4 separate regions of the Homo sapiens genome follow, and all the other regions are linked to region 4. The links come from fine-mapping of genetic effects on gene expression. A gene starts in region 4. Each other region holds a variant in brackets. All regions are shown on one strand. Distances are between the middles of the regions.

Region 1 (8,102 bases), 98 kb after region 4:
CTCATCACAAAACAGGAATCATCATCCTCCTCACCTATGGAGTTGTTGAGGAATGAATGAGTTCATCTGGGCAGAGCATGCAGTCCCAACAGGACGGAATTTGCTTCCCAAGGGGGAAAAACATATTTTACTCTTTACATTTAAAGCATGGATACCTGAACAGTACCTAAACAGACACCCAGTATACCTGTGGCGTTAAAGTGTCATCGGAGAGAGCTATTAGGAAAAAATGCCTTAAAAGCCTCCTTGCAGGGGTGAAGAATGGCAAAAGCTTACAAAGATGGTTCCTGGAACACAGCAGGTGCTCAGCAAACTTCAGCTGCTTTGCTGTTATTACTACTCACAGCAGGTGTCACAGAGGAAGGACTGGTTGCAAGCTTGGGTTTAGGAGCCATACTGTTGGAGGTCCCTTCCTGGCTCTGCCACTTGCCAGCTGTGTGACATTGGGCAAGTTGCTTGACTTTTCTGTGCCTCAGTTTCTCTCATCTGGAAGCAGAGCTAATTAGAGCACCTGTCTCGTGCAGTTTTGTGTAGATTAGATGGGTTGATTTGTGTGGTATGTGTAGTTCAGTGCCTGGCACACAGTAAACACTCAGTAAATGCAAGCTATGATTATTATTGATTAAGATTGTTAATTATGACATGCAAGGAACTTGGGGGTCAATGGTGCTCATTGAGGGGAAACTGTAAGGAAGGGTGAGGTTCAAGGTTGGCCCCTAACTGCTTCTCCTGGGCATCTGGTCTGGCTCTAGCCTCAACCACTAAGGGCTGTCCTGGGCTCCAGAGGAGGGGCCGGGTGCCAGCCTAGGGCAGGAGCACCAACCGAGCACGTGAAGCACTTTGCACAGTGGCAGGGTGCTCAGGACTCTATGGAACACCCCTATCTGAGCACTGACTTCAGAGCAACGTGTCCTCCATGCATAACCCAGCTCCACATGCAGGGAGCCTGGGCCACTGCGGCCAGCTGCCCCCTTACCCTCTCCATGCCTGACCTGGCTGAGGTGGGGAGGGAGGAGTCTATCCCCTTCACACGACTTCCCAGACGGTGAGCCCCTCGCTTTCCTGGTCCGGACCCACAGTGAAGACTCGCTCTCCTGGGATCCCACGGAGACCTTACGAGGCCCCACGTGGTCCAGCCTGCCCGCCCATCCCTGCTCATCAGCCCACTGGCCACCCACTGCTCCAGAACACAGCAAGCCTGTCCCGCCTCAGGACCTTAGCACAGGCCATTCCACTGCCTGGAACTCTCTCCCCGTGGCTGGGGCCTTCTCAGCCTCCAAGTCCCCCAGTCAACCGTCCCCTCCCCTGACAGGCCTTCCCAGACCATCCAGGGTGAAGTGGACGTCACACGCCCTCCCCTCCCCTCCCCAGGTCTTCTCGTCATCATATCCCTGTTTCATTTTTGTGTTGCTCTAATCACGAACAACCATTCTCTGTGTGCGTGTTTCCTGTCCTTCTCCCCGTGAAAGATGACAAGCTCCATGGGCTGGGGGCTTTGTCTTGCCTGCTTCCTGCCCGCCACTTCCCAGTCCAGGGCCCCGCCAGCCCTCAGTACCTGCTTGTTGTGGGGATGAAGCCCACCGAGACCTTGGCTGCGCTCGTCATTTGCTGCGGTTGCCATCCCATTTTACAGCTGTAGACACTGACAGCAGAGATTCCTTTTGTGTCAATATCTCAGGGAAGTTTCTGGAACCCCTACCCAGGACCCAGGGAAAGGACTCTGCCTGGGAGGTTTCAGAGGGCACAGGAATGCAACACTGCTCAGGCCCTGGCACTTACATTTCTCTGCAAGGAGCATTTTCCTAAAATTTGTCTGTTGCCTCTGGACGCGTAAGCAAGGTGACTAAGGGACTCAGGATTTGATTAGGCAGCAAATCCGGATAAACAGGACAGGTGGCACTAATCAGAGCTGACGACTAGACAAGGCCTGGGAGGCCCTCAGGCTCTGTGAGCTCAGAGCACCTCTGTGGAAACTTCCTTCTGCCCGGTCCCCAGAGAGGATGGCCACAGCAGCACCCTGCCTGGCTGGGACGTGGCTGGATGGGGCACAGGCCTGGAGACCATGTGGCATGCACCCTGCCACTGAGCCCCCAGGTGGAGGTGCCAGGGGAGGGAGGTGGGGCTGCACAGGGTTTCTTGGCTGTCTCCAGCCAGTGGGGGACACTGAGCTTGAACTGGGCAGGTGACGACTTCTCTGGGCCTCAGTTTCCCCCTCTCTAGAGGTGATGAGTACAGGCCTGGGCTCCTGGCCCTGAGGTCCTAGGAAATGCTCTGTGCTGCAGACAGTCCATGAGGCCAGGACTGGCTCTGGCCCAGCCTGGTGTCTCCCAGGGCATGGAGGGAACACACATTCACTTCCAGAGAGCTGGAGCCTGGGGCAGGACTCTTGCCAACAGCCCCCGGCCAGAACCTGCAGGCCTCCCTCAGGTCCCACCTGGAGCCACCTGCCTGCCATGCCTTCCTGGCCTCGTTCCCCCATGGTAAAACAGTCACTGTGCCAGCCTTGGGCCAGGCTCTGACCTAAGTGTGTGTTTGTAAAGCAGTAGCTTCCTTTTTGCCTTCCAACAACCCGCAAGCCAGGAACTGTCACTGGCTCTCGTGTCACAAACGTGGTTTGAGGAACGCCTGCAAGGTCTCATGGTTAGAAAGGGCAGAGCTGGATTTCGGACCCATGCTGGCTTGAGAGGAAGACTCCCTCCCTCCCTCCCTCCCTCCTTCCCCCCTTTTCCTCCCTCCCTCCCTCTTCCTCCCTCTCTCTTTTCTAGTGACCAGAGCTTTCACTGATCAGCTAACAGTATTTGGCTAGCTCCCCAGGATCTGCTCCTCAATCCTAAATGGGACAGAAGTCTTGGCCACCAAGCGTGCCTGTGTCCCCCGCCAGGTTGAGGGGCAGAGGGTGCCACTGTGGCCCCCCGTGCCTGGCGGAAAGCACACCCCGGCTGGGTTCTTAAATCCGTAAGGTCACAATCAACAAGTGAAGGCACCCTGAGGACCCAAGGGCAGAGAGTTCCAGGAGGCGGCTGCGGGAGGGGCTGTCTGGGGCCCCCTCAGGCCCGCAGGGGTCAGGGCCTGTTGACTCTGGCGTCCTGTGAATAGACTCTTGCAAAGC[C/T]GCCATGTTCTCTGCTTCCTTGGGGAGGCACCTTGTCTTCTTAAGTCATTCCGTTGTGTCGATAATGCCTATTCTTTCCACGGGGCCATCTGCCAAGGTCAATGTTTGTGTTGTTTTAAAAACTTACATTGTATCACTGTGGGAACTTGAGTGTACAGAAACCTTTTTTTTTTTTCCTTTTAAGGAGGGGGCTGGGTGGGAGGTGGAGGTAGAAAAGTTTTCTCACTTTTCCTCTATTGCTTTAACATAAGACACCATTTGGATGGCGTTGGCTTCCCGAAGCTCCAGATATTTGAAGCTGTATTCACCGCGTGTGGTGCTTGCTTCTCCCTCCCCACCCTCTGAGGACACAGCCACTGGCCATTCCCTAGTAAAAAAAGAAAAAGGAAGAGAGGGACAGAGGGAAGAAGAGGTGGGAGCTTCCTAGAGCACAGACCCTGATTAATGTTCCAGGGAGAAAGGTTAGAGATATGTACTCAGGAAAGAAAATGGGAAAAAGGCCAGGTGCAATGGCTCATGCCTGTAATCCCAGCACTTGGGGAGGCTGAGGCAGGAGGATCACTTGAGCCCAGGAGTTCGAGACCAGCCTGGGCAACATAGTGAGACCCTGTGTATACAAAAAATACAAAAATTCTCCAGCCGTGGTGGCATATGCCTGTGGTCCTAGCTGCTTGGGAGGCTAAGGCGAAAAGATTGCTTGAGCTCGGGAGGTTGAGGCTGCAGCTAGCTGAGATTGTGCCACTGCATTCCAGCCTGGGCAACAGATCAACATCCTGCCTCAAAAAAAAAAAAAAAAAGAAAAAAGAAAACAGAAAAGGAAAAGAAAAAGAAAAAAGGTGGTGGGGAACCATCTTGGAACGAAATTCACTCCATGTTTGTCTGAGCCTGTCTGTTTCTGCAGAAGGGAGAGAGGGGTGATTTTAATTGAAAAGGACAAAATTAAATAAGGCCCGGACTTCAGGTACTCAGGAGCCTCATGGACTTGTCCCCTGGCACAGTGGCTGCCGCTGCCACCTCATGCCAATTACGCGGCCGGCCAACACCATCAGGGTCCCCAGATTAGATGCCAGGCCCCTGGGCCTGCTTTAGTCTTGGGCAAACCAGGAAGCTGGCCGCCAGCAGCCCACAGCCCTGAGATGCCGGGAATTTGTTTCTCCAAAAATGCCCTGATGAGGCCGGTGAAAAGGAGGGAAAGGCCTGACACGGGCCCTGGTTCTCCCGGGACACAGTGGCCCAAGGCTGTGTCGGCCCCAGCCCCGGGAGAGGTCAATGGCAGGAGGGTTTGTGTGGGGATCAGACATGAAGCTGGGCAACAGCAGCAGACAATGGGTCCTGAGGCTGGGCCCAGACCTCTTAGGCCCCATCAGCCACCTCCTCCAGGGAGGACTCTTTGATTAACACTCACTGGGCCCTTCTGGCTTTGGCTGGTATGAGAGGAAACCTTCCTTCCCCACTGCCTCCTGTCCTTCCACAATTCTTCCTAGAGCACTGGATGCTGGGGGCCCAGAGACCCCAACACACAAGTCCCTCAGAGTTTGCAGTCTAGTGGGTAGAGAGACGACGAATCAGGCTCTCCCAGCAGCCCTGAGCTAGGGAAGAAAGGACAGAGTGTCTTGGGGGCAAAGAATGGGGCTAGGGGTCAACAGGGCCCTTCTGGGGCTGGAGGAAAGATAAGCGGGAGTGAGCTAGGCAAAAATAGGGGTGCGGTGCTTTAGCACACGCAAAGAACAGGGTGCCTGTCTCCTTAGGGGCATGAGAGGAGGGAGCTGCAGCCTCACGGTGGGGTGGGAGATGCTGCTGGCAGCAGAGAACAGGCTGCTTGGGAGCCGCCCTGACATGACAGGGGCCTCAGAGAGCCCTAACTTCAGCAGCCCAACCCTCACACATCTGCCTATACATCCGCACTGGAGCAGGCAGAGGCTTGGCCTGGGAGAGGGGCTCCGGCAGCAGCAGTAGCCCCGGCAGCCTGTGCACGGAGCCTCCCTGGGTCCCGGGGTCACTAGTGAGGCTGCTTTGCCCTTTCTTCACAGGGTGACCCACCTGACTGCTCAGGGCCGCACAAGGGCCTCCATGTGCTCCCGTCTCTAGCAGGTGAGGCTACACGGGCGGCTCACTGCCTCACCCATGCGTCCCTGGGTGCTCCAATGGCACCGAAGGCAGTAGGGATGCTCCGCCACTTTGGGGTATATGCAACGTGCAGCCCTGCAGCCCTTCATCCTCCTCCACCCTGGAGGCTCAGTCAGAAGTGGGCACATGCACCTCTGTCCCGAGGTGAGGAAGCTGAGGCACAGGAGTGCAAGGGGCACCCCAAAAGCCACCAAGCTCCTAAGCAGTACACCTCGGACCTGAGCCCATGTTGTTTGGGATTTCTGTTGGAGGACAACTTCCATGAGTCTCTGCCACTAGCTCACTCTGTGACTTGGGGCAGTGACTTCAGCTCTCTGAGCCTCACCATTCTTGTCTGTCAAATGAGGCTAATGGCTGTGCCTCCCCTGTAGAGTCACAGTGGGGAGTAGGGGGTGATTGGTATACGTAAGGCATTTGCAACTGTGCCTGGCGCAGGTGAGCCCCTACCTCGTCCTCGCGTCTCCCCTCTGGCCCCAGGATCCTCTTCACTGTGGGCCTAGATCCAAGTTGCCTGGCACCAGGTCCTTGCATGAGCTCATGTTTGTTTAGAAATGAGAGACACGGACCATGTGGTTGTGTGTGCCACCTCAGCAGTATATGTGTCAATCAACAATGTGCTGCCAATCACCGGAGTGTCCTCCGGGTGCAAGGCGAAGCCATTTTGCTTGCCTTTGTTCACTGTGACCTCACAACAGCCATCGTCATTTCACCAATGAAGAAACAGAGGTTTTAGTGGCCCAGCCATTCAGCCAGCGTCTCACGGCCGTTGGGCAGGGGACCCACAGTCAAGCTGATCCCAGAGTGTACCCCCCCTCCCCACTATCACCACCCACAGCCCCACAACGGACCATGGTGTGCTTTCCTGGTCATCATGGACACTATGTGTGTGTCCGCCGGGCCTGTGGACTCCGAGAATGCAGGCAGCACGAACCCACGCCTGGGATCCCCACTGTCTGCAGGGTGCAAACGGTTCCTCGGCCCAACAGGCCAGGGCTGGGCTGCTTTGAGGGAAGTACAGGAAAGAGTAGCCAGGACAGCTGTCCACACGCTCTTCCTCTCCTTAATGTGTTTCCTCTGACCAAGAGCAGCGAGGCAGGTGGGCAGGGAGAGCTCAGGTTGGTGCCTGGGCCCAACCGTGACGCTGTTTTTAGAGGAATGAGTGTGAAATGCTTTCCATGCAAAAGGGAGAGAGAAAGGGGGAAAGGACCAGGGGAGAGGCAGAAGCCACTGGCTGAGTATAGGACACCCCAGCTCGGAGCTGGAGGCAGCATGGCACCAGTATGGTTGGCACTTCTGGGGCCATGGAGGCAGGGCAGGGGCCCACGGAATGCTAGATCTTAGAGACCTGGCAAGGAAAGTGGGGTGGAGGCAGATCAAGGGGCTATGTTTGGGTTCAGGGGCCCTAACCCATCAAACGGTGCAGGTAACGGCTTCCTTGAAGAGGCTGGGTGAGCTGGGACCAGGAACATAGCTCAGGTGACCTTGTGGGGCTGAGGCTGGCACACAGCAGGGTCACCACAGCCATGGGCAAAAAAATGTGTGCACCTTGTGCTGGAATTCTCGCCATGCTCTGAGCTGGTATGCTGTCAGACGTGGGGGTCTGCTCCCCAAACCCTGCTCTGCTTCTCCTCTCCCGAGGTCATTTGGCCAACAGTGATGGAGCAACCCAGCATCTCTGATTGCTGGTGTTCTTTGGAAGGTTTGAGGAACTGAGAGGTGTGGGCCAGCCATGCAGATCAGTGTGAGAGGGAAGACCCTATCTTGTCCCTCTCCAGTCCCCGGGCATGTCAGGAAGCACTCCCTGAATAGGTGCTGTGTAAGTGGACCGAGGGTTCGCTCTCTGCCCAGCTGGGAGCCAAGTCCTCTCTGTGGAGTATCTCATTTCATCTCCCACAACCACCTCGAGACAGATCTCGTGGCTGTGCCATGAAGGACTCAGGGCTCAGAGAGGAGCATTGAGGTCACAAGACGAGGAAGTGGCTGAGTCCAGACCTGAACCCACCATTGTTTCTAACAGCTGCATTGAGATCTAATTCATAGGCCATGCAATTCACCCATTGCGATGGCTTTCAGTACATTTACAGAGCTGTGTAACCATAATCAGACTATATTTTAGAGCATTCACCCCCAAAAGAAAGCCCATTGCGTTAGCAGTCACCCCATTCTGCTTCTGCCCTCCCCTCCAGCTCAAAGCCAACACAAATCTATTTTCTGTCCCTATGGCCTTCCCTATTCTGGACATTTCATGTAAATGGATTTATACAATATGTGCTCCTTTGTGTCTGGCTTCTTTTACTTAGCATAACATTTCCGGGGTTCATCCATGCTGTGGCCTGGATCACCGCTTCCTTCCTTTTTGTGGCTGGATGATACCCTGTCATCTGGATGAACCATGTTTGTTGGTGCGATGCATCAGCTGATGCACACTTGGACTATTTCTACATTTTGGCTAGGACGAATATTGCTGCTATGAATACTTGTCTGCAAGTTTCTGTGTGAACCTATGTTTCCATTTCTCCTGGGAATGCACCTAGGAGTGGAGTGGAATAGTACGTCATGTGGTAGCTCTGTGTTTAACTTTTTGAGGAGCAGCCAGATCCTTTTCCAAAGCAGCTGCACCTTTTATGTTGCCATCAGCAGTGAATGAAGGTTCCAATTGCTCTGTCTCCTTGTCGACACTTGTTATTGTCTGTCTTTTTTATTTCAGCCATGGGCATCACATGGTCTCTTGTGGTTTTGATTTGTATTTATTTGTTATGTTTACAATATTGCTTTCCGTACATCAGCTGTGCTTCTCTCAAGGCGGCAAGAGTCCCCCACTGGGTGGGACTTTCAAGGTTTGGATTTGAAGTCTAAGTGTATCAGA
Region 2 (8,102 bases), 27 kb after region 4:
GTCACAGGCCACATTGACCACAGGGGCCAGGAAGTTCAGTCGCATCTTGTACTCAGAAGGAGAGAGAACTGAGATATTTGGAGGGTTGCACCAATGACTAATGACAATTTGCCTGAACCCCAAACTGAGTTAGGCCATGCTATTGTGTGCTTTGTCTATTTCACCTTTCTAACACACACCATTGTGCAGTCATGTGTTTGTGTGACTATTTGATTATCGTCTATGTCTCCCACCAGGCTGAATTTCACAAGGGCAGGGCCCTATTGGAACTGTTGACTGCTCTATCCCTGTTTCTGTCACTTGCCCCTTGCAGACATTTGAGAAGTTTGGTGTCTATAGCAGTCAATCATTGGAAAATAGATGCTGGTCTCTTTATCCTGCCATCTCTAGATACCTTTTCTTCTTTTAATTATTCACCGCAGAAATTTATATACCCATCTCCCAGCTTCCACAGTTATCAACATGCCAATCTTGTTTCATCAAATTCCCATATTTCATTGCAGAAATTTTTGAGTCTATAAAAAATAGAATCATATAGTAAACTCTCATGTAACCATCTCCCAGCTTAAACCGTTATCAACATGCCAATCTTGTTTCACTGAATTCCCATATTCTCTCCCCACCTCTATTTTAAAGTGAACACATCCTATCATTTCATTCACAAGTCATTCACTACAATGTAATACCATTACTGTGCCTCAAAAATGGACAGTCATTTTAAAATATCATATAATACCCAGTCAATGTTGCAATTCCATTGATGGCCTCATAAATGCTTTGTTTAAATTAAGATCCAAAGAAGATCCACACATTGCATTTGGTTGATTTGGTTTTGGAAATCTTTAGTGAATCTCCATTCCCTTTTTTATTTTCTTATTTTTCTATTGGAAACCATATCACCCATCCTGTAGCCTTTGCCATAATCTTGATTTTGCTGATGGGATGGTGTCTTCTGATATGTTCCTCTGTCCCCTGTGTGTCCTGCAAACCTGTAGCTAGCTCTCAGTAAGATCTAGAAGTTTGATGATGTTCATATTTGACTTTTTTGGCAAGAATTCATCAGAGTTGTCATTGTATACTTGTACTGCCTCATTCCACGTGATGTCTGTTTGTCTGTTAAGCTTCCTCAGAGGTTTTGGGGTTTGCCAGCCTGATCCACCATGGTACCCACCTTCATCCACGGTACCCACCCCCATCCCCCAATTCCCAGTGATCCCACTCCTGTTTACTTTGTTCCACTTTCTTACAAGAAAAATCACATCCTAAAATGTTCCCTCCTTGCACGGAAAACCCATCCAGACGAGGCTCAAGTCATAAAAGAGCATGAGACATGGATCTCCATTTGTTATGAAGTTAGTGGGCATCAGCTTTATCAACAGCCCCCATCTTTAATCAAGAAGAAATTACCCACTGGTGGGACATTATGGTTTTCTTTTACAACTAGCTCGTTTTTTAAAAAATTAATTTCAGTTCAATTTTTTTTTTAATTTTACATTTCGGGATCCATGTGCAGGATGTGCAGGTTTGTTACATGGGTAAACGTGTGCCATGGTGGTTTGCTGCCCCCATCAGCCCATCACCTAGGTATTAAACCCCACATGCATTAGCTATTTATCATGATGCTTTCCCCCACTATCCCCCTACACAGGCCCCAGTGTGTGTTGTTCCCCTCCCTGTGTCCATGTGTTCTCATTGTTCAGCTCCCACTTACAAGTGAGAACATCCGGCATTTGGTTTTCTGTTCCTGTGTTCGTTTGCTGAGGTTAATGGCTCAGTTCAACTTTTAAGCAAGGAAAGAGAAGGATAATTGTGCAGCGTTTCCTGAAAAGTTATGAAAGAAAGCAAAGGGTCATTTTTCAGAACTCCTCTCCCACCATTAAGAATCATCCATCGTGGCTCTTCCTTGCATCTTGCAGCCGAGCTGTAAGCCCTGGAATTGGCTGATGGGGCTTTGCTTCCAGAGATGTTTCTCAGATCCTCCTATTTACAAGGAGGGTGTTTGGAACTAGAAAAAAGCTGGAGGTTCGCATCAGGGGAAATTCTCAGTGCAGCTCACACACTCTCATGCCTGCTGGGAATCCGGGCCCTCCCCACTCCCACCTTCTCCTCTGCAGCCCTCTCCTCTCTTCTCCATCCTTATTTCCATTCGAATCAGTGGTTATGGGGTGCTGTCAGGCCTGAGCACCGATGAAGGGATTTTTCAAGCTGTAATTTGTCATGTGGATGAAGGTTTGATCCCTTGTTTGGTGCCCGCAACATTGGGGTCCTAATTTCCACTCCAGGGCCAGTTCTCTGTGGAGCAGGGCAAAGCTTGCCTAACCTTTCTATGTTAGTTTCATCTCCTGGAAAATAGAGTTAATATCTACCCTGCTCCTAGGAACACGGGAATTAGTTATTGTTTTTTCAGAGTGCTAATCTCATACCTTTGCCAACACAAGGCAATTCCACCAACAGCCCCCAAATTATATCTGATCACACAGTGGCTGAATGTGTTGATCATCACTACTTCCATTGTGAAACTCCAAACGAATATTTTTAAGGTTGCCACTTTATTCATAAATCCAAGAAGTTATCACAGCCACTGCAGTGAGTGAGGTTCAGAGCTGAGGGCCACTTGGAAAAAATCACCACCCACTCCAGCCCCGGCCTCCATCCAAGGCTAGGCAGGCTATCACGAAGCAAACGAGAAGGTCACGACAGGCTGCAGCTTCGTCCCTTTCCATTTCGGGCTATGATTAATCTTTTCTGATGTTCTTTTATTTGAAAAAATAATCTAAACTGGCCCCAGACAGAACCAACTCTCCTTAAAAGGGAAATCTACATGAAAGGACGGAATGTTGCTCACAGAGAGAAAAGACAGGGAACCCATCGCTGGAGGTTTGAGGCTCCTGAGGAGAGCACTAAGGTGCCTCGTCTTTAACTTATGGGCATAACGGGAGAGCTCTTTCTTCTTGAAGTTGGTGATTCACAACCTCATTTGAGGTCTGATTCCATCAAAAATACATCCAGCTCCAAGGGCTGCCAAAAAAAAGGAGGTTTTCTCTAACCCAAGAGACCCCACACAGTTTCTCCTCCAGCCTGGAGACCTGGGTGTACTGTCAGGGCCCCCACCTTCAGTTCTCCTGCCCTCCTGAGTTGTAAGCAGTCCCCAGGAAAGACTCTTCAAGAGGCAGGCCGCTTGGGTCTGGATGGTTCTCTAAGTCAGAGTTTCTCAACTGATGTGCGACTGACATTTGGGGCTGAGTCACTGGGGTGGTGGGGACAGATCTTTGGGGCTGAGTCACTGGGGTGGTGGGGACAGATCTTTGGGGCTGAGTCACTGGGGTGGTGGGGACGGATCTTTGGGGCTGAGTCACTGGGGTGGTGGGGACGGATCTTTGGGGCTGAGTCACTGGGGTGGTGGGGACGGATCTTTGGGGCTGAGTCACTGGGGTGGTGGGGACGGATCTTTGGGGCTGAGTCACTGGGGTGGTGGGGACGGATCTTTGGGGCTGAGTCACTGGGGTGGTGGGGACTGACCTGTGTATCACGGGAGGTTTAGTAGCCTTCCTGCTCCCACCCACTGGATTCTGTGAGCAGCCCCTTCTCCCATTGCAACAACCAAAAATGTCTTCAGACATTGCCAAATGCTTCTGGGTGAGAGGGCGCAAAATCACCCTGGTGGCAATTCATGGAGCTGTTGGTCCCACAGCCCTTTCCAGGGTGCCTTCATGTCCACAGGGAACCTTCAAAGTGCCAGGGTCTTTGGCTGAGTGGGTGAGACCTTGGGAAGGCAGAGCATGGAGCTGTCCTGACACGGGAGCATTTTTTTCCCTTGTGCACACATCCGCCTGGCAACCGTGCTACGAGTCACTGTGGCCTGCCTCCCAGGTGCCCCTTTGAATTGTGCCCACAAACCAGGTGGTTAATCAGCTCTCCAGCGCTGCTTGGAAGCGTCCCTGCCTAAGCGAGCATGTAATTACCAGCTCGCACCCTCAGCCGTGGACACGCAGGAGAGCAGCGGCAGAAACGGGTGGCTCATTGCAGGAGGGGGAGCGGGGGACTCTGGCCTTTGAAGCGTGACATGAATGCCAAAGATGATGGTGTCCGTCCCCTTTGGAGACTGGACATGTTTTGCTGGCCTTTACTGGAACACAGCCACCGGATCCCTGCAGATGGCTAGGGCTTCCTGAGCTACCTGTTTGAGGGAGCGGGCCCCCAGCCCCGGGGGGCACCTGAAGAGCGGCCTAAGCCTGCACACACCTTGGCCTCTTGTTAGGTCCAGGGGGGTGTTTTATTTGGCAGCCTTGTTCCCCATCGTATCAAACGAATTAAAATACGCCCACACTAACTATAGTTTGTTTGCAGTAAAAATATTTGAAAGGAGTTTAATGATTTTGCTTCTTAAATTATCTAGCAGCAGGTAATTCATCAAAGTTGCAATTACCTGTGATTTGCCCCACAACCAATAGGCATCCTTAGGCATTCTTGCAATGGTTTTCTCAAACGTAATGCAGTTTTTATGACGACGACATCATCAATACAGCACCCAGCAAGCAGTGAGGAGGCTGCACTGCTATAGTTGGCAGGCGTTTAATGAAGCATTTATTAATTTTGATTTTGTGGCTTTCTTGTTGAATTTTGGAGCCCATAATTTTCTTCCACATTGCACACACTTGCGTGGACCCCAGAAAGGTTCATGCCTAAGGCTCTTGGGGGTTTGTGGGTGGGTGGGGGTGCTCTTTTTTCTTGGCAGTATGCTGAAGGTGAGAAGATTCCAGAGGTAGCTGAACAGTTGCTTTGCTGGGGAGGGTTTGCTTAGCTGCTGGAGTCACTCCCAGTTTCCTCTTTCTTGGTTTTTGTGGTGGTAAAAATTAAGTCCAAGCATCTGGAGAGCCAC[A/G]TGTGTGATTTGCAAACATCAAACACAGCATTCATTCCTTATTTCTTGATTAATTTATTGGCTGTCGGCTTTCTGATCAGTCTACCAGCTGGGCATTTTACTTTTCTCTTACTGCGAACGAGGCGTAATTGCTGGGACGCAAACCGGTCGGAAAAACAATGAGAAATTAGGCATAATTGGGCGGCATTTCCTGACGAACTATAATGCCAAGCTCAACATGGGAGCCAGTGTTTTATTTTCTTTTTTACAAAAAGGGACTTCACAGTTATTCCTAGCGCGTGAGTTTTCCTCCCCACTGCTTTCCAATGCCTGGGACTGAGCGGAGGGGGTGATTTCCTTCTTCCCAATCAGAGGTAGCGAATCTCTCAGAGCTTATGGTAATATTTAAAGACATAAAAAGGACAGGACAATTAGAAATGTGCACAGGTAGCTTTAGGGCTGACGTTATTGATGCCTTTGTGATCAATAGCACTATTTTTATTTGGATTGCTAGCCATAGGAAGCTACGGCCACAAAATTTAGAGAGCCCTGCAGAGGGCCTGTAAAACCCTGTTGTAACTCTCATGTCAGGCCGGGAATAACGGCTGATTTAAAGGCTTTGGCTGGTGCAGTGAGGCGGGGTTTCCATCAGTGTATGCCCAGGAGAGGGGATTACATCTGCCTGGCGTCCAGACCCCAGGTGGAGTGAAGCCGTTTATAACACAATTTGGCTGCAGTTGAATTTTAATCTTGGGATCCACCGATTGCTTTAAGGGCGAGCTCGAGAAGCCGCCATTTGTTTTTGATAGCTTTACCCAGAGACTAAAGAAATCCCTCCCCCCACAGTTGTTCTGTTAGGGGTTGTGTCTGTGGAAGGGAATTGAAAGAGAAGATTTGGTAAATAGGAGCCATGGACTGTCGTGCTTTCTGGATGAACTGTGTGGACACTGGCTTTCTGATAATCATCGTAGCTAATATTCACTGGGTGCTAATGAGACGTGAGGATGCTGCTAAGCACATTTCACATCATGTTTATCTTCTTAATTGTTTATTTTATTTTATTATTTTTTTTGAGACAGACTCTCACTCTGTTGCCCAGGCTGGAGTGCGGTGGTGCAATCACCACTCACTGCAGCCTCTGCCTTTGAAAGGGCTCAAGCAATCTTCCCACCTCAGCCTCCCGGGTAGCTGGGACCACAGGCACATGCCACCACGCCTGGCTAAATTCTTTTGTATTTTTTGTAGTTTTGTAGAGATGTGGTCTCCCCATGTTGCCCAGGCTGGTCTTGAACTCCTAGGCTCAAGCAAGCCACCCACCTTGGCCTTCCAAAGTGCTGGGATTATAGGCCTGAGCTACCATGCCCAGCCACATCATGTTTATTTAAAAACAAACAAACAAACAAAAACAAAACCCAACTCACAACAACCTGTGAGAGACTATCTCAGGCCCATCTTCTGGACCCGCACTGGCCAATATGGTCACCATTCGTTACTGCGTTTGAAATGTGGCCAGTCCATACAGAGACAAGTTGTAAATGTCAAACATTCACCAGATTTCAGACTTGAGGTGAAAAAAAAAAGTGTTAAGTACTCAATAACTTTTATATTGATTACATGCTGGGATTTGGGTGATATAAAATGTATAACGAAAATTGTATTCTTTTGATTGTGTACCCATTTGTTTTTACTTTTTGAAAATGTGGCTAGGAAATAAAAAATTATGGATGTGATTCACATCATACTTCTAAGGCACTGATCTTAGAAGAAGAAAAGACACACAGACCTGTAATCCCAGCACTCTGGGAGGCCAAAGTGGGCGGATCACCTGAGGTCAGGAGTTTGAGACCAGCCTGGACAACATGATGAAACCCCATCTCTACTAAAAAGGCAAAAATTAGCGGGCGTGGTGGCATGCTACTTAGGAGGCTGAGTCAGGAGAATTGCTTGAACCTGGGAGGCGGAGGTTGCAGTGAGCCAAGATCACGTCACTGCACTCCAGCGTGGGTGACAGAGTGAGACTCAGTTAAAAAAAAAAAAAAAGAAAGAAAGAAAGAAAGAAAAAGAGGCCCAGAGACTAAAGGATCATGCCCAAGGCCGCCCAGCATGCAAGTGTCCGGGCCTTTTAGATGCTAACAACATGACCCCAGAATGGGCACTTGTGCATGAGTCAGTTTCTCAGTCAGCTTTTTGTCGTCAGCCCCACATCCTGCAGACCTTGGCTGAATTTGTAGCCCCTCCGGTCTCAGTTTTCCCAGCTCGGTCATCAGAGGCTGGAGTTGAATGATCTTTGTGGCTTTTTTGCGGACAATGGCGTTCTCAATTTTGTACTCTTTGGCACAGAGTGGTGTAATGTGGAGAGGGGAGCATCAGTCTCTCTCTTAATGCTTATTTAATTATATTTAATTAGGAATCTCGTTGCAATTGGTCTCCTGGGGCCATCTGCTGTGGAGATTTTTGAAGAATCCAAATTTTATTTCTTGCCATCGATCCATGTGGTTAATGGGCCTGAGGAGGAATGATGTCATCTGTCCTTCTAACTTAGCACAAGAGGCAGGAGGAGAAATTGAGCAAAATCAGGCTGAGCGCCCGAGAAGGCCACCCTTTGGAGAGCCAGGGCGGGCCTGGCTCATTCCTTCAGGTTCTCAACTGTAGTGCCCACGGTGTGCCCCAGCTTGCTCTGCCCTGTGCCAGGATTTTGGGGACAGCTGGGTTCTGGCATCATCTGTGCCCTTGTTAACATGGTACCCTAAAATTGATGCTTGCCCTGATGGTAAAATGGTGGTCTGCATGTGATCGGCACCAATCTGTGACGTCCAGGGTTCTTGAGTCAGCCACGTATTCCCTGGGTTGCCTTCAAGATGACCTGAGTGGACTCACTGCCTATTCTTTTCCCTCTAGGTGGAATAGGATTCTTACAGGAGTAGGGTGATAAGAGAAGGGGGCTCTCCTTCATTGCTGCCATCGGGCTCCTTGGTGGAAAACTGGGGCAGGATTCAAAGCAAGGCTGACATGACCTGTACTTCCCCAGAAAGGAGCCGCTGGAGGCCTGGCTAGGGCCAGCTCTCCAGCCCCGGCAGCTGCCCCCCACCCACCCCCACCGGGCATTTAATCAGTGTAACTGATTAGTTGAAACACACCACAGGCTGGGAGCCTGCGACCCTGGCTGACGTCCGGGGCTGTTGTTTATGGCTGGGTGATTTGAGGCAAGCCTCCCGACCCCGCTGAGCCTCGGATCCCTCAGTTA
Region 3 (8,102 bases), 57 kb after region 4:
CCTAACTCACTTTGTGACCTTGGGCGAGTCCCACCGCTCAGCAGAAAGCAGGCGCCGGCCCCTGGCTGTTCCTCCCAGCTGCACAGCTGTGGTCTCCCAAGATACCCGTTCCTCCCCCAGAGAGCCCTCACCTGCCACCCTCCTGGCCACCGGCCATGGATGGGGGTCATCTCTGCACCGAGCTTGCCGCACTTGTGGGGTCTCCCTGCTGGTGCTGCTGCAGGAGGGGGTCGAGCTGGGGGTGTGCGGACACCTCCCTTTGCCAATGACTCCCACACAGTTGATGAGAAATCCATTGGGTCCTGCCTCGTTTTGTTCCCCGGGACTGCAGCTGTTGCTCCTTACTTAACTCCAGCATTCCCTCCTCATGCAGTCCCACCCTCTCCCACTCTACCCTCCTTGTGGGGGCTGAGACAGGATGGTGGCTGTCCAGAGCCACAGCCAGCCTGCCTCCTCCACACATGGGCGCCCACCCACCCCTCCGCACACCGGGGCCGTCGGGGGGCCCGCTTGGTGATGTTTTAAGTGAGGCCGACAGAAAAACCCCACTCCACTTTCCAGCACTGCCAAAAACAGCTCTCCCGCTAGATTTATAAAGTTTGCCTAACTTTCCTTCTGCCACCCAGGAGAGGCCTTCCGTGCATTTGAAGAAAACACCTCCCCCAACCTTTTTTTTTTTTCTCTGAAAAACAGATGAAGGTTTTGGCTAGAAATCCAGAGGTCTGGGGGGCAGGCGTGTAAATTCAATGGCGGTTTATTGCCCTAAGGAAAACATACCTGGGTTATGAAGTATTCCCCCTTGAAATCTCACTTGACATTCTGTAAAGAAAGAGGAACGTTTTTAAGAAGTTGTTGGAGCCACCTAATACCTTCCCTACAAAGCAGAGCCTTTTTGAAAGATTAATATCGAGCTGCAGACAGTCAGTCACCATAATTGTACCGATCCCGGCGTGTTCCTCTGCCCATGCCGTCGGGGTGCTGGGAGCCGCAGGAGAGCTCCATCCGGAGTGCCCGGGAGTTGGGGCCTCCAGCTTAGTTCCATGAAAGGCTGCCAGCCCCGGCCCTGGGTACCCAGTCCCAGACCCAGACCCACATAGGCCAGCACATTTCTGCTGATGATCTTTCTTAACTCTTTTTCCTAAGCCAAGGAAGGGGCAACGCTGCGTTTGGGGTTTGTAGGCATTTATTAATGGAATTAAGGACGATTTGCAAGAACCCTCTACTGCTCACACCACTTCCCTCGTGTCATTGCGTAAGAGGCTTTTCCTGGGCAGCTCTACCTACCTGGTTGTGTCCCTTTAACTGGAGAAAAAGGGAAGTTTGGGGGGGTTGGGGGCCCTCTGACTCGGAACAAAGTCTTCCTGCAGATGCTCCCTGTAGTGCCGTGGGCTGGTTAACGTGAAGTGTGTGCACGTGGGTCCTGGCCAGCACAGTGTGGGTGAAACTCCCTCCCTCCTCCAAGGTCATGTAGTCGCCTCGCAGATGTGGCTGGTATGGCAGTGGGTTTCAAGGCTGCCAAAGCTTAGAAGTGTCACCTCGGACAACCCCTGCGGGTGCCTCGTAACCGGAAGAATGGGGCAAGGTCGAGTTGCCATTTGGCTCCCTTTACCTTTTTGTCCGCGTGGTGGTCATGCTAAACAGGCCCTGAACTCCCACTTGGGCACCCCTGGGACCTCAGCTTGCAGATCAGGGGCTGGCTATGGAGAAATGTGAGGTCCCCCCTCCCCTCATCTATGGGAGAAAAACAAAGGCCTAAGCGAAATGACTTTTTTTGAAAGCATCATTCCATACAGCATTAATTTTTTAGGATTTCTTCTGGGAGGGGAGATCAGATCAGAACCACAAATGATATGAAAACATCAATGTCTTCATCTGGAGAGGAGCGGGTGGTGCAAAGGTCCGACCACCACGAGGTCAATCCTCTCCCGCCCAGCGTGGGCTCACCGACCTGCCATGGGGTGGATGTTGATTAACTTCATCCAGGGTTTCCCCTTGGTGTCTGAGGGCAATTTCTGACCCGGATAAAGCTGGCTTTCACCACGTGACCTTTACAGAAAGGCAGTACTGTGTCCCCTCTGGGGTCCCCGAAATAATAAATCACCAGAGGCCCAGTGAGAGATGAGGCCATGCGAGGAGGCAGACAAAGGACAGAAACGGACAATAAATCTCACTTCTAGGGAGCAGTCATTTCTTTTTTCTTTGCAGTAATTTTTGTGAAATGTAATTGTGATCCAATAATACAAATACCAACATCTGGAATTCTGCAAGCGATATCTCTGCCTGTTCTGTTTGGAAATGGAGTACTTGGCAGGCATACTTTCTTTCCCATTCATGGACAGGGAGCAAAGCGTTCAGGGGAGGGCCAGAGGGGAGAGAGCACTGCCGTCTGCTGATCGTGGATGGAACCCTCATTTGAGAAGCTCCAAAGGTAGGGGTCATCAGTCAGACCCCAGCCCCCCTCCCCCACCCCCCACCAGCCACTGACAGTCCCAGGAGCCAGGCATTTACAACCCAAGCCCACAGAGATGTGGAAAGAACTCTCAGAACCAACGTGGTTTGAAAAGCACCAAGAAAGAAGGGAGACTTGGTCGAATAGCCGCACTTATCCTTTGCATTTCTGTCCTGGGCTAAAAATATGAATTCTAGATCATGAGATTGAAGATTTTTTCTTTTTTTTCTTCTCAAATTAAGGTCCAGGGGGAAGGAAGCTCAGCTCACCTATAGGCTGAAATGGTTGGGGTGTGCCCTGTCTCTGCGACTCTTACCGCCCTCCTTGGAAATTCTTTTTTCTGTGGGTTTGGGGGCTTTAGTACCTTTAAACTTTCTAAACCTTTCTCAGGCCATCAGAGGAAAAAAATGCATTTCCCTACCCCAAATCCAAGCTCTGAAGAATCCACAGTTTGTCCATTTTCCTCATTCGATGAACAAAGAAACATTAAACTCAAAAAGACAAAAGCGGAATGTCTACAAAATACCTCAGAACAGTCTTCTTAATTTTAGGGGAAACGACTGGGTCATTTTCTTCCAGTGCTGTCAGAAAGCAAAGATCCTCTCCTGGGAGAAAGACTGCTTCAAAGTCCTCCAAGATGTGAGGAGTCCCTGTGGTTATTAATTTTTAACTTTTGGTAGTTTTTATTACCCAAGCTTGTACATACCTCAAAGGCTCTAAGACAAGAAAGACGGCTCAAAAGAGTTTTGCTACCACTTAAAAAAACAAAAAGAAACCCTACAGTTTTAGGATTCATGGCTGGGCCTCTGCTGTCATGCACCCAGAGTCTGGAGTGAAGAGAAGTACCAGGTGTCCTAAGAATGCTACAGCGGCTGCCTTCAAACCAAAGACCTGCACAGTTTTAATGACCAGATGTTTATCTAGCCAGAATTCATTTTGATGTGTGCTTTACAAGCCACTGGTCAAGAAAGAAAAGTAGTTTAAGCCCAAAAACAATCACTAAGGTCAGAAATCCAACAGTTTGTAAATCTGTAGAATTTTATGCCTTGGGGATAACAAATCTTTATTTTTCTTTAGATAATGTAAGTTGGACAGAAGTCATAAAGAGGGAAGTCACAAAAACTGTTTGGACTATGCCCCCGCAACGCAGAAAATCACAGTCGCCCATAGACCATAAGGAGGAATGCCGATGTTAGGGTCTCGCAAACCAAGGTAGCAGGGCCAGTACTGCTCGACTGGGTCAAACATTTTGTTCTTACTGACTTCCTAACCTTTTCCCACTTGACATCTTTATTGAGCACTCGTGAGGAGGCCCCAGCTGCCTCGGCTCCGAGCACATTCATCTCTGGGCGCTTGCATTTTTGCAGGGGCAGTTACATTTTCCGTTTTCTAGCCAGGAATGGAATGTTGATACTGTGTGATTATTTTATTTATTTTATACGTTTTCCTTGGAATGTCTACGTGTGGCCGCTGCCCTGGCTTGGTGGCCTCTTGATTTACGGTAGTTATAAACATTCCAAAGTAGACATGTCAGTTAAATGATACCATAACATTATACAGTTACAATTCTGTTCTAAATGTGCCCAGA[G/T]TTCCAAAAAATCCGTTTTCAGCTCCCCTCCTCCACCCCATTCCTTCCTGCTACCTACGCATGATGGCATTGGAAGCCACTAGCTCAATGGAAAGAAGACAGAAGACCTAAGGTTTACTCGTAGCCTCACCACCCCCTAGCCCCGCCTTCTGGAAAAAACATTTTTTTTTTTTTTTTTTTTTTTTAGATGGAGTCTAGCTCTGTCACTCAGGCTGGAGTGTGGTGGCACAATCTTGGCTCACTGCAACCTCCACCTCCTGGGTTCAAGTGATTCTCCTGTCTCAGCCTCTTGAGTAGCTGGGATTACAGGCACCCACCACCACAGCTGGCTAATTTTTGCATTTTTAGTAGAGACGGGGTTTCACCATGTTGGCCAGGCTGGTCTTGAACTCCTGATCTCAGGCGATCCACTTGCCTTGGCCTCCCAAAGTGCTGGAATTTAGAGGCGTGAGCCACCATGCCCAGCCGGAAAAAACATTTCTAAGAAGCAAGTTGGCATCCAGAAGTAACATGCCCCTTTAGAGAACACATTTGAACTTTCTTCCTACTGAAAATCACGTTTATTCACATCATGCATGTATTCCCAGGAGAAAGTGGTTCTAAGATGGTGGCCACTGAGTAATTCTGGGAGGTGACCTGTCTCTCAATCCCCTGGCCTGCTGCCTTTACCGCCCACCAACAAAGAAAGAGTGGTTTGTGCTTCCTAAAAGATGCTGAGAGAGGGAAGGAAGAAAATATCTCCACGGACATAGCAATTTGGAGAGCTTAACATTCAACCAGAAAACCCACTTCAGCATCCTCCCCAGGAGAACTGTCAGGGAGGAATTCGCTACATGCCTTCTCACAGAAAACACTGGGACATGGGCTGCTTTCACTGCCCAATTCTAACCCTTGGACGTGTACAAACCCGACAACTGATATCTGAAGCAAAATGTACACCTAAAGAATTTTTATTCTCTGTGCTAGAGCAGGGGTTGGCCTGGGCTTGTTTTTGTAAATAAAGTTTTATTGGAATGCAGCCACGCTCATTTGTGGATGTCTTGCTTATGGCTGCTTCTGTGGGACAAGGGCAGGGTTTGATAGTTACCACGGAGACCCAACGGCCTACAAAGCCAAAAATGTTTACTGTTTGGTCTTTCGCAGGAAAAGTGTACTGGCTCCTGTCCTGGATCAACTCAGAAAATGAAACACATCGGATTCTGTCCAGGCCGGGCACAGCAACCTGGCCCATCCATGTGGAGCCTGCAGTGACCACTTCCGCTGTCTGCACAAAACTGGAGGGAGGCTGGGGGTGCTCCAAGTATAAGTTTCCTCATCAGCAAACCGGAAAGAGAAAGACCGACCTGGAGGCTGGTTATGGGGATAAAATAAATATGTCCTTATATATGTGTATAAAGCCCCAGCACAAACAGCAGTCGCCGCATGGGTCAGGGAGGCACTGCTTGGAGCCTTATGTGACCGTGTTCTCACATTATCTTCCAACTGGTTTGGGAGACAGGTACTGCTATGATCTCTGTATTACACAGAAGCAAACTGAAGCTCAGAGTGGCCGCTCACTTCACTCCGAACAGAAGGTGCTTGAGCTCTGTGCTGATAGATGGAATCCCAGATTTTCCATTTAACTTTTGATGTTGTGTCGTGGGAGTGGTGTTCCACCTTTGGAGGGTTTTAAGGACTCTTTATTAACCAGCAAGGGTTCTTGTGCCTTTAAGGAGGAGTGATTGAGAGGCACCTGCAAGGCCGGTGGAGGCTGCTCTGGAGGCCTGCCTCTTCCAGCCCACAGGCCCTGCTTCCTGGAACTGGTGTGGGTCACTCATTCCAGTTCGCCTCTGAAACTATTTTCATGACAGTAAGCTGCTACCTCAAGAAACAGCAACAGTAGGGATTTTGCCTGTCAGGTAAGGTGCTTGGGGAGTGAAGGCTGTGGTCAGGATCCAAGCAGGAAGCCTGAGTTCATGTCTATTCTTCACCGAGCATGGCCAAGTCCATTTGAGTCCATCTCCAGAAGACATGTCAAAATCACCCACTTATCTCCATCTTCAACTCCTCCCAGGTCACCACCTTATCTTCCTTAGATGACTGCACTAGCTTCCTGACTGGTTTCCCTAAAACCCATTCATTTATCTATCCCTTCTACCATTTCTCCCACCAAACATCCATCTCACCACCCACCATCCTGCCACTTATCTTTCCCTCCCTCCCTCATTCCCTTCCTCCATCTATCTCTCCATCCATCCATCCATCCATCCATCCATCCATCCATCCACCCACTAATATGTATTTAGTGGTTACAATGTCCCAAGCACTGTATGGGTCCCAGTGTAGGTGGAAAAGGAAACAGATTTCCTGACCTCAAACAAAACAATAAATTTCAAAGTAAGAAGCCCCACGAGGGAGGAAGTGTAGGCTGTCTTGAAAGAGGATGATATCAGGAGACATATATGGAGAGGGCTTGGAGGAGGTGATGCGCCTCACCAGGAGGTGATATACTGATAGAGGGACTATATAATTTATTGATCAAACGGGGCCATTTTGGGGAGTGAGAGGAGGAGCTATTAAACATTTTTTCAGGGCACCAGGTGCATGTCAGGACTGGCCAGGTAAACTGAGCTGCATGGCTACCTCCTACAAGCCAAGGTTCACAGCATGAGCTGAGAAAGGGGCAAGGAGGAGAGAAATGCCCCTTCCTTTCCTTGGGGAGAGCCTGCAAACCTACATTTAAAAGAACTAGGAGAAGGCTGGGTCCGGTGGCTCACGCCTGTAATCCCAGCTCTTTGGGAGGCTGAGGTGGGTGGATCATGAGGTCAGGAGTTCAAGACCAGCCTGGCCAATATGGTGAAATCCCATCTCTACTAAAAAATACAAAAATTAGCTGGAGGTGGTGGCGTGCGCCTATAGTCCCAGCTACTCAGGAGGCTGGGGCAGGAGAATCGCTGGAACTAGGGAGGCAGAGGTTGCAGGGAGCCGAGATCATGCCACTGCACTCCAGCCTGGGTGACAGAGTGAGACTCCATCTCAAAAAAAAAAAAAAAAAAAGGGGGCTAGGAGAGAAAGTAAAGAGGAAAAAGAAAGAGCTGTGGAGTGCTGGGGCAAGAGTGAGTTTTGGGGATGGAGGTTAAGCAAATAAGAGTCTCAGGGAAATGCGGGATGGCAGAGTTGGGGGAGAGGAGAAAATAGGGTATAAGAAATGTTTTTCTGTGTTGTGAATTGGGCTCCCTTCGATGCTGCTTTTACTGTTGTCTATCAAAAGATGCAAGTGAAAGAGTGGCATTCCCTTTGCTTTCTCTAAGGCGTGTTTGCTGTTTGGGATGTGCATCTTGGACTAAGTCTCCTTCTGGAGCTTGGAACACCAGGTTCTGCCGTCACAACCTTTATCATGCACAGGTCGCCCTGGCATGGACAGGACCTTAGCTTTATTGTCCGTGCTCCCTCGCTCAACTGAGAGCTTTCTGAGGGCAGGGCCTCTGTCTGCTTGTCTCTAGTCCCAGCACCTAGCACAGGCTAGCATTTAGTATGTGCTCAATAGTGTGCAGTGTAGGGACGAGTGCACGGGCTCCAGCGTGGTTAATGTCCTTCACAAGGCGCCTTGGAGGAGCCGTCCCCAAGCTCATGCTTCATTTCACATCCTGCTCCTGCAGAAATGGAGCAGCTGCTCCGCTTGGGTTATTTAGTGTCGGAATTTCATCTCCCCCCATGCCAGGCTGCCCTCGTCTCTACCTCCATCAACTCCCCAAGGCCATCCAAGGAGCCTCATGGAAGCAGATATCTGCAGATGGCTTGTGTGACCCATGGATGGGTATTGAGCTTCACGCCTCACCGCCTTACAGTCTGGCCTCTTCGTCAGCATCAGTGGGACAGGCAGGGTCTCTAAGAAGAGCTCCAAGCTCCCAGAGGCCCTGCCAGGCAGTTCTGGGCTGGTTCCCTCAGGGGTCAAGGGAATCATGGCCAGCGTGGGTCACAGTTGCGGGCTGGGGAGTCTCAACCACTACTCTTCCTCCGGCTAGCTCTGTAATTCGGAGTGAGCCGTGTGGACTCCAGCCTCAGTCCTTCTGTAAAATGGAGACA
Region 4 (8,102 bases):
TAGATTTTTGGATGAGTGTATTTAAGTAATTTTCTTCTTAGTTTTTATTCTGGGTTTCAAGGCAGAGCTCCACATCAACTAATTTATTATGGAATAGCTTGTGATTTTGACCTAGTTAATCTGACTGTAAATGATAACTTGCCATCGCAAAGTATATAGCGAGAGATAAAAGCAGAGCTGAAATTAGAAAAAAAAAATACAAGTTCGAAAAAAAAGCAGCAGCTATGGTTTCTCATTTTCCCCCTCCAGCATAAATTGTTGAGTAATGAGATTTTTAAAAGCCAGAAATTGCTGTGGAGTGAACCAACACTGGCAGCTGGAGAACTGGCACCAGACACATCTGGCCTGACAGGGTTTGAAGGAAGGTTCGCTGCAGTGGGTGACTACCCATACCGCAGCCTGGCTCCTGCGGCCGCCATGCGGACATGTTCAGATACAAGAGGGAGGGAGAGCAAATGGGAAAAATCAACGTCCAAATTAGAAACTACCTAAGCTATGTTGTTTTTCTTGGGGCCCCACTGTGCCTTTGATTTCCTGATCGTTCAGAGCAAGAATAACAAAATCCGTCTAACCCAGTGATTTTGACGGATTCGTCTGAAAAACTACCTGTTGGGTTTGATCTGTTCATACCAGTGATTCTCAACTGGGGGCCACTTTATCACCTGGAGACATGTGGTCATATCTGGAGACATTTTCAGTTATCATAACTAGGAGGAGGTGCAACTGGCATCTGTAGGAAGAGGGCAGGGATACTGCTAAGCACCCCAAAATGCACAGGACGGGCCCCTCATCCCCAACAAAGAATCCTCTGGTGCCAAATGTCAATAGCGGCGAGGTTAAGAACCCCTAACGTGTGTGTACTCAATCTGAATTCTCTTGGTGGGGTGGCTGGTGTGCCATTATATATATAGTTTCTGGAACCTGGAGACATGAAGTTCAGGCGTGCCCAGCTCAGGCACCTAAATTATGTCAGTAGCTGAAGGATTAACTGGGTCCTGTTTCCTTTTACTAAAGCAAAAGGATCTCATCACCTGGTGATGTAGCCAGCGGTGAAAAGAGCTTTTCAAAGAAGCGTTCAGTGGAAAATAGTGCCCGGTGTAGAGCTGGGAGCTGCAGTGGCAGGCTGAACGGCACCCTCCCCCTTTCTGGTGGCTGTGTCTGAATTGAGGGCAGGCTGCCCCCCTCTCTCGTCAGGCCCCCGGGCACTCTTGGCTTCTCTGCTGTTGAATCTGTCTGATTTGCTGTGGTGAAAGGTCACCGAGGAGCTGGGCAGCAAGACTCCCCAAGAGCCAGCCACGGCTCTACACTCACAGTGATTTCATTGGCATGACGGGAAGCTCCGGCCTGCCAAAGACAACAGCCATGTGCTGTGACTGAGACTGCAGGTTCCTGGGGCATGTGTCCCACCACTCTAGACTGTTCCATTCCCACTGGGTGCAACGGCCTGGAGGAGGCGGATGAGAGCAGATGGACACCCGGTTTCCCCATCCTGTCCTCCCTATCTCAGCACCCAGCAGAGGCGCGCTTCCACAGCTGGCCCCCTTGTCACCCTTTCCAGTTTGCATTTTCCTGCCCTTTCGAAAGAACCAGCAGGGGTGAGGTGGTCTATTTTCATGCTGATGATCAACTAACTCTGTGGCCAAGGACAGCTGTGTCACCTCTCGCTCCCAGACTGGCAGGGGAAGCGGCCCCTGGATGAATGTCCCTTTCGACAGGTGAATCTGCAACTCTTCAAACTGCGGAGGCACCCTCCCCTGACCCTCCTTCAGACCCCTGCCAGTTCTTCTCAAAACAGCTTGTTTAGAAATTTGGGGGCTGGGAAGAAAAGACTGTGATTGAAGAGCTCCTCGAGGTGACTTAGACTTTGCTCCTTGCCTATACATGGAGCAGAGCGTGCTCTGTGGGACCGCGCAGCCCCTCTTCACCCCGGGGTTCTCGGCTGCCATTCCCTGAACATGAGCTCAGTGCCAGGCAGCAAGTGGAGTGATCCTCCTGCACGTGCTCTCGTAATCTTCACAATCATCCCAGACGGAGGAGGGGATTTTGTGAGCCCATTTGACAGGAAAGAAAGTCAAGGCTGAGAGAGCCGATGGCCATGCTTACCCAAAGCCAGACGGGTTGATATGATGTTGATCTGGGCTTCCCAGCCAGGTGGTCTAACTCCAGGGCCAGAATTCTCAGCCATTCATAATGTGAGGGTGCTTGGGGATGAGCCCCCAGCTGGGCACACTTCAACTGTGGTTACTGTCATTTTTGTCAGTGGTGACTGGGCCCCTGTGATGGCACACTCCAGTCAGCTGGCCTTTGTACAGTTTTGTCTACCCTACTCCCCACCCCCACGAAGAGCCACCAGGGAACCCCTTAGTCCTGGAGAAGGCATTGACTACTCTACCAGGGGTTCCTGAAGCCCCTTGGTCCCCTTTGTCAGGCCTGCTGGGCACAACTCGAGCCTGGGGTCACTGCGCGCTCCCTAGCTTCTCCCCGAGTCCTGCTGCAGGAAGAAGCCCCGACCCCGCACAGGTCAGGATTCCGTGGGCAAAAACAACCCCAGTAACCTTGGTCTGAATAGCCGGGCTTGTCCCGCACCATGGGGGTCTCAGTGGGCCTGGGATCCTCCTGCATCTTCTTGGAGGCCCCGGTCCCACTGGGCCCGGCACAAAGGGCAGCTCTGGGTACCTACAGGCCAGGCCCCGACTGGCGCAGAGAGTGCAGCGGCTCTCATATTGCGAGGTGACGCGACTCCCTCCCGCAGGCCCCAGGAAGCTCCTGGAGGCGCGCAGGTGCCGGCCAGGTGAGACTGGAGAAAGGCGCGCAGGGCGCAGCATAGCAGCCGCGTGGGCCGACCCAGGGCCGTAGTCCCCAAGGGCCCTTAGGGGACATTAGACGGCGAGCTCCCTCCCTTCCGAGCTCAGCCAGTTTGCCGGGTGGGGGAGGGTGGCACCTACCTCCCAAAAGCACCAGGACGCAAGCGTAGGGGAGCATGGCTGCGGGCATCCCGTCGGGGCTGGCAGGACCGCCCGCCGGGCGCTGCCACGGTGCGCAAGGGGAGGCGCGGGCGCAGGGCTCTCGGACGGCTGCGGGCGCCGGCGGCCAGGCTGGAGTCCTGCGAAGAAGTTGCGAGGGTCCTGCGCCCCCCTCGGCGCTCACACGCGCTCAGCCTTCCCGGCTGTTGATAGTTGTAAGCGGAGCTGCGCACTCATAGGTCCAACTTGCCAGAAGAGGTGGAGACAGCCCCCGGCGAGGCGCGCACACCCGCGCAGCGCGCACAGCCCCCTGGTGCAGCTCCTGCCATTCAGACCCCCAGCCCTCCCCCAGATGTCCGTCCCCTGGCCGTCGCCTTCCCCAAAGTCTTCGCAGTGGGCAAGGAGGCCTCCCCCAAGCTCTGGTCCCGGCCAAGGCAGAGCGATGCGCTCCTTGCGTCAAAGCGCACCCCTAGCCAGGCCGTTCCCTGGAAGGGCAAGCGGGGCGGGGAGTTCCTCTAAGCCCCGCCAGTCCTGGGACCCCTGAAGTTTCTATTCAGGTCTTCCAGCTACTCCTGGAAAAGTCGCGTCAACTTGGATCCCAGCAAACCCAGAAGCGCAGTGAAAGTGGCCAACCCGGTCGCCTAGAAGCCAGCCCCGGCCTCTGTCTGTAAATGAGGCCGTCACCCGCTCCCCACCACACCCAAACGCATCTAGGCAAAGTGTGGACCCGACCAGGCGGGTTTTCCTCCTTCTCGCAACTCCTCCTCCTGCCCCCCTCCCTCCCAAATCTCATCTGAGTGAGTCAGCTGAGGGTGGCAGCTCAGAAGCGAGGCAGCCGTGAGGCGGAGGACAGGCTGGGGGATCCCAAAGGGTGCGCTCCAGCCCCCAACCCAGGCACTGGGACTCTGGTGGCACCCTGGGTGGCAGGCAAGCCTTGAAATCAAGTGCACGAGCCTTGGAAAGGAGGACCGGGAGAGTTATGGCATTTATGAATGAAGAAGAGAAAGAGAATCACTCGGATGGGAAAAGTTAACTGGATTGTTCCCACCTGCATGGATCACCGGGTAACTGCAGTGGGACCGAGGGGGCGAGGCTGCGGGCTGGGGATGTGCGGGTTTCCTTGTGTTGCCACGAACCCAGAGAGGGAGAGGAAGAAGATGGAAAGAAAAAGGAAAAAGGGAAAGAAAGTAAGAGGGGAGAGAGGGGAAAACTGAGGATGAAGAGAGACAGAGAAGAGAGACCTGAGAGAGGGAGAGAAAGAAAGAGACAGAAAGAGAAATGAAAGTGAGGAAAGGGGAAACAGGCAGAGAAAGAGAGAGAAAGGGGAGGAAAGAGAAAGGGAAAAGAAAGGAGGGAGTGAAATCAACAGAAAAAAGAGAACCAGGAAGGAGGAGGGAGGGGGAGAGAGAAGAGAGAAGAGAGAGAAGAGAGAACAAGAGAGAAGAGAGAAGAAGAGAGAAGACAGAGATGCGGTCTCCCTGGGGAAAGGTTTGGAGAACTGGGCCAGGCCTGTTTCCCGGGACTCACGAGTGAGCAGTCCACCTGCCCCTCTGAAGCATTTTATAGACTCATTTGTCCCACTTTTGTGGGCTGATCATCCCACAGGGGAACAGGGGACACCACCTCACCTTTTGATTTCTTACCAGAAACTTGGGCGAGGCTTCCAGGAGCCACAAGAGCCCTTCAATCCACCCAGGGACCCCCGATGTGGGCCCACCAGCCATCCTTAGCTTTCCTCCTCTCCAGAGGCAACAGGGAATAGGAAAAAGTCCAGAGCAAGGCCACACCATGATCTTAACGCAAATGGAAATGTGAGGAAAACGATCAATTTGCTTCCTGAAAATGACATTTTTTTTTTCTGGTTTCTATGAGACTCGAGGTGGCCTTGCTGAAACTGAAATCGGTATGAGCTTTCCCTGGCAGACAATGGCCATTGTCACATATTAAATTCTCATGAAAGGGATAACTTTGTGGGCAAGAGGAGAGTTGTGCAGGGTGATTATTTATACTTGCATAATTGTGATTATTTGTGGCAATTATGGGTCTTTCAATGTACAAAATTTACAATTATGGGTAGTTTAAAAACTACATGCTAAGGCCGGGTGCCGTGGCACACACCTGTAATCCCAGCTCTTTGGGAGAGCCAGACGGGTGGGTCACCTGAGGTCAGGAGTTTAAGAGCAGCCTGGCCAACATGGTGAAACCCCGGCTCTACTAAAAATACAAAAATTAGCTGGGCGTGGTGGCGGGCGTCAGTAATCCTAGCTACTCCAGAGGCTGAGGCAGGAGAATCACTTGAACCTGGGAGGCGGAGGTTGCAGTGAGCTGAGATCATGCCATTGCACTCCAGCCTGTGTGACAAGAGTGAAACTCCATCTCAAAAAAAAAAAAAAAAAAGTTAAAACTACATGCTATTCTGGCCATAATCATTTGAGACTTCAGTCTCTGGGCTTTCCGGATGTGGGTATTTCAAAGTCCCAGGCGGCTGATGGGGGTTCACGCATTAGTGGCATTTTGTGGGGAGAATGGGTGTTACATTGATGTCCTACATAGGGTCATAATTCAGTATTTTCAGAACTTATTGTACTGCTGTTAGAGATACGAACTTTTCCACAAAGTATGATGCTTGTGTATTAATAGTTGTACTGGCTTATTTATAAATGAGAGGATTTGCTGATAATTATTGAGACTGTGGCATGGGCCAGGCACTAGTTAGGTTGAGTACTTTATATGCATGTACTTTATACCTGAACAAATTGACAAGAAGTGGGAATTACGGTCAGGCCATTTTACAAACTGGGGCAACTGAGTTCAGAGAGTTTGGGCCACTGTCCTGAGGCCAGGCAGCTGGAAGGTGGCAGAACTCCCGGATCCCTGCTTCCAACCACCGCGCTGTGTCTCCAGGACACGTCCTGTCTCACTGGGTTTTCTGCTCCTTTCCAAATCTGAGGACCCCAAAAGAAAAGGCCTGTTTTATAATAACGGCTTCTTTTCGAAGAGGTGTGTGAATAATGGGGGAAACACGACTCCAAAGTACTTTTTCTCTCCAGCCTGGGCAACATGGCAAAACACCATCTCTAGAAAAAATACAAAAATCCTCCAGGTGTAGTGGCACATGCCTGTGGTCCCGGCTACTCGGGAGGCTGACGTGGGAGGATCTCTTGAGCCTGGGTGGTCGAGGCTGCAGTGAGCTATGATTGTGCCACTGCACTCCAGCCTGGGTGACAGAGCAAGACCTTGTCTCAAAAAAAAAAAGTGCTTTTTCTACATCCTAGCTAAACCCCAGCTGTTGAGGCTGAGAGTTACAGGTGGGCCCTGCGCCTGCTGCATCCTCACCCTTGTGATGGGGCGACACTTGGGAGGGTGTGGGCAGCTGTAAAGGGCACTGGAGACTGACGGGTCCAGCGTTCCTCACTTTCCAGGTGAGGAAACAGAAGCGCAATGCAGGTGAGCTGACCCTGTTGAGATAACACAGATTTTACCCCACAAATAGAAAAAAGCAAAGAAAATGGACAAATAGTGTTTGAACAAGGCTGTCCTCAACTCACAAGCAGATCAAACAAGAGCAAAAGAAGGAACCGAAGCTAAAACTCATTTATTGTCTTCAAACATATATTTATTTTTAATCAAAAAAAGAAAAAAGTTATGTTATCCAGATCTTGCATTTTGCTCAGGGAAGGGTGATATACGCTTGGTTCCTGACCTCTTTCTTACCGAGTAATCGCTTGAGAGCTTTTGAAACGGCAGCAATCATAAGGCTGTTTTGGGGAGAAGCCTCAGCTCTGTGTTGGCCGTTAAGTCACGTCTGTGGGCATTATCGCATCTTGGCCTCCGTAGCTGGGCTTTCCTGGGCTGTTAACTGCAGGGGCCCTCGCTGGGTGGTCAGAGCTGCTGCGGGTGAGGTTTTGGGAGGATTCAGGGGGTCTTGCTGGGTGTGAGGGAAGCGGCCTTGAGTCAGATGTCTGTGAGTGGGACCCAGCCTTCTTGCTCCACGTTTATCTCCCACACCACCCCTTCCCCCAGAATCAAAGTCCAGGGGGAATCAGGAGGAAAGTATTGCAGAGCAGGGCCTCTTTTCCTTCCCCCTCCCCTCCAAATGCCTACCTCTTCATCCTTGTCCCTGTTAAAAACACCATGGGATCATAAGATCACCCCACAAAATCTTGCTATAAAATGGTCTGTTTCCTCTGCTTGTTATCAGGGGTAACTGATCAAAGAAATGGTGCCCAGGCCTGGTTATCTAATAACCAAATAAACATCCAGGCAGCCTCCTGGGCCAAGAAGGGTAGGCAGGGGTAGCTCTGGATGAAGCAGGGGACAGGCCAGGGTGGGCTGGGCCCCTCTTGGTGACCATTTCTGCCTCCAGAGTGAGCATGCTGGCTCGGCCCAGAGTCGACCAGATCCTTATAACAACCTGCATGTTACAGATGAAGAAATTGAGGCAGAGAAAGCAAGTCTCTGTCCTTCAGAAATGCCTGGTGCACCCCTGAGCCTAGCACATGCCTTGTGCATAGTGGGGGCTCGCTGCACGTTTGCTGAGTGAATTAATGAGAGAGCAAATGAACTATCACAGAATGAGCACTGGGTTTATCAGAAGACCTGACTTCAAATCATAATGCTACCACTTAGCCACTCACCATGGCCGGTGCTAGGGGGAGGCGAACTTGTTCCCAGGGCTCACCATGTAATAGGCACTCACTCTTGGGTGGGCATAGGTGCAGATAGCCCCTCCAGGTGAATGCCTTCTCATAGTTTGAGCCCTGGGTGCCTCCCACTAGTCCCGGCCCTGCAATTCCCTTTGCATCTGTTTCTTCCTCTGTAAAATAGGATGAAGCTGTGCCACCCTGTAGGAATTAGAAGACCATGTCCAGGAATTGAGCACTGGGTGCAGGATCCAGTCTTCTGAGGCCCTGAAACCACATGGTGAGAAGTTGAAGGTCACACAGCTGGTATGCAATGGAGCCTGGATGGAAACCTGGTCCGGGCTGGAAAGACTGGCTCCTCAGCTTGAACCTAAAATACCTAGGTCTTGAATGGCATCTTGTTCACCTGCCTCTGGGAAGGCAGGTTGTGGAAATACCTTGGGCTGTCTGGGAACTCACCCTCCAGCCCTTAAACCTGTATAGGTATTCTTGCTCT

Direction of the effects. Positions count from the first base shown, and alleles are read on the strand shown. Sizes are in standard deviations (SD) of each study's normalised expression. Not every link is listed here.
As copies of C replace T in region 1, the expression in unexposed skin of the gene that starts at base 3,686 in region 4 goes down (small effect, 0.38 SD a copy in GTEx).
As copies of G replace T in region 3, the expression in transverse colon of the gene that starts at base 3,686 in region 4 goes down (small effect, 0.26 SD a copy in GTEx).

Evidence for each region.
Region 1: its variant is fine-mapped to the expression of APCDD1L in unexposed skin (GTEx, PIP above 0.99). The same link has a PIP of 0.9 or more in aorta, atrial appendage and sun-exposed skin.
Region 2: its variant is fine-mapped to the expression of APCDD1L in monocytes after LPS (Quach 2016, PIP 0.95). The same link has a PIP of 0.9 or more in monocytes, monocytes after Pam3CSK4 and monocytes after R848.
Region 3: its variant is fine-mapped to the expression of APCDD1L in transverse colon (GTEx, PIP above 0.99).

The regions. Positions count from the first base shown.
Region 1 is chr20:58,609,444-58,617,545 of GRCh38, forward strand. All of the region lies in intron 6 of APCDD1L-DT (APCDD1L divergent transcript), which reads left to right. Among named protein-coding and RNA genes, the nearest start is that of LINC01711, 21 kb to the right of the region's middle. RefSeq lists an enhancer at 556-1,057. The variant C/T (reference allele first, on the strand shown) is at 3,110.
Region 2 is chr20:58,538,964-58,547,065 of GRCh38, forward strand. The region is part of intron 5 of APCDD1L-DT (APCDD1L divergent transcript); the gene reads left to right. Among named protein-coding and RNA genes, the nearest start is that of APCDD1L, 28 kb to the left of the region's middle. RefSeq lists enhancers at 2,620-3,819, 7,098-7,599. The variant A/G (reference allele first, on the strand shown) is at 4,880.
Region 3 is chr20:58,568,396-58,576,497 of GRCh38, forward strand. The region is part of intron 6 of APCDD1L-DT (APCDD1L divergent transcript); the gene reads left to right. Among named protein-coding and RNA genes, the nearest start is that of APCDD1L, 57 kb to the left of the region's middle. The variant G/T (reference allele first, on the strand shown) is at 4,038.
Region 4 is chr20:58,511,714-58,519,815 of GRCh38, forward strand. APCDD1L (APC down-regulated 1 like) reads right to left here and starts at 3,686. Exons shown (of 4, transcript NM_153360.3): 1 at 2,946-3,686. The coding sequence starts at 2,994. It overlaps APCDD1L-DT (APCDD1L divergent transcript), which reads left to right and starts at 3,666. Exons shown (of 7, transcript NR_034147.1): 1 at 3,666-4,027; 2 at 7,791-7,886. RefSeq lists an enhancer at 2,289-3,287.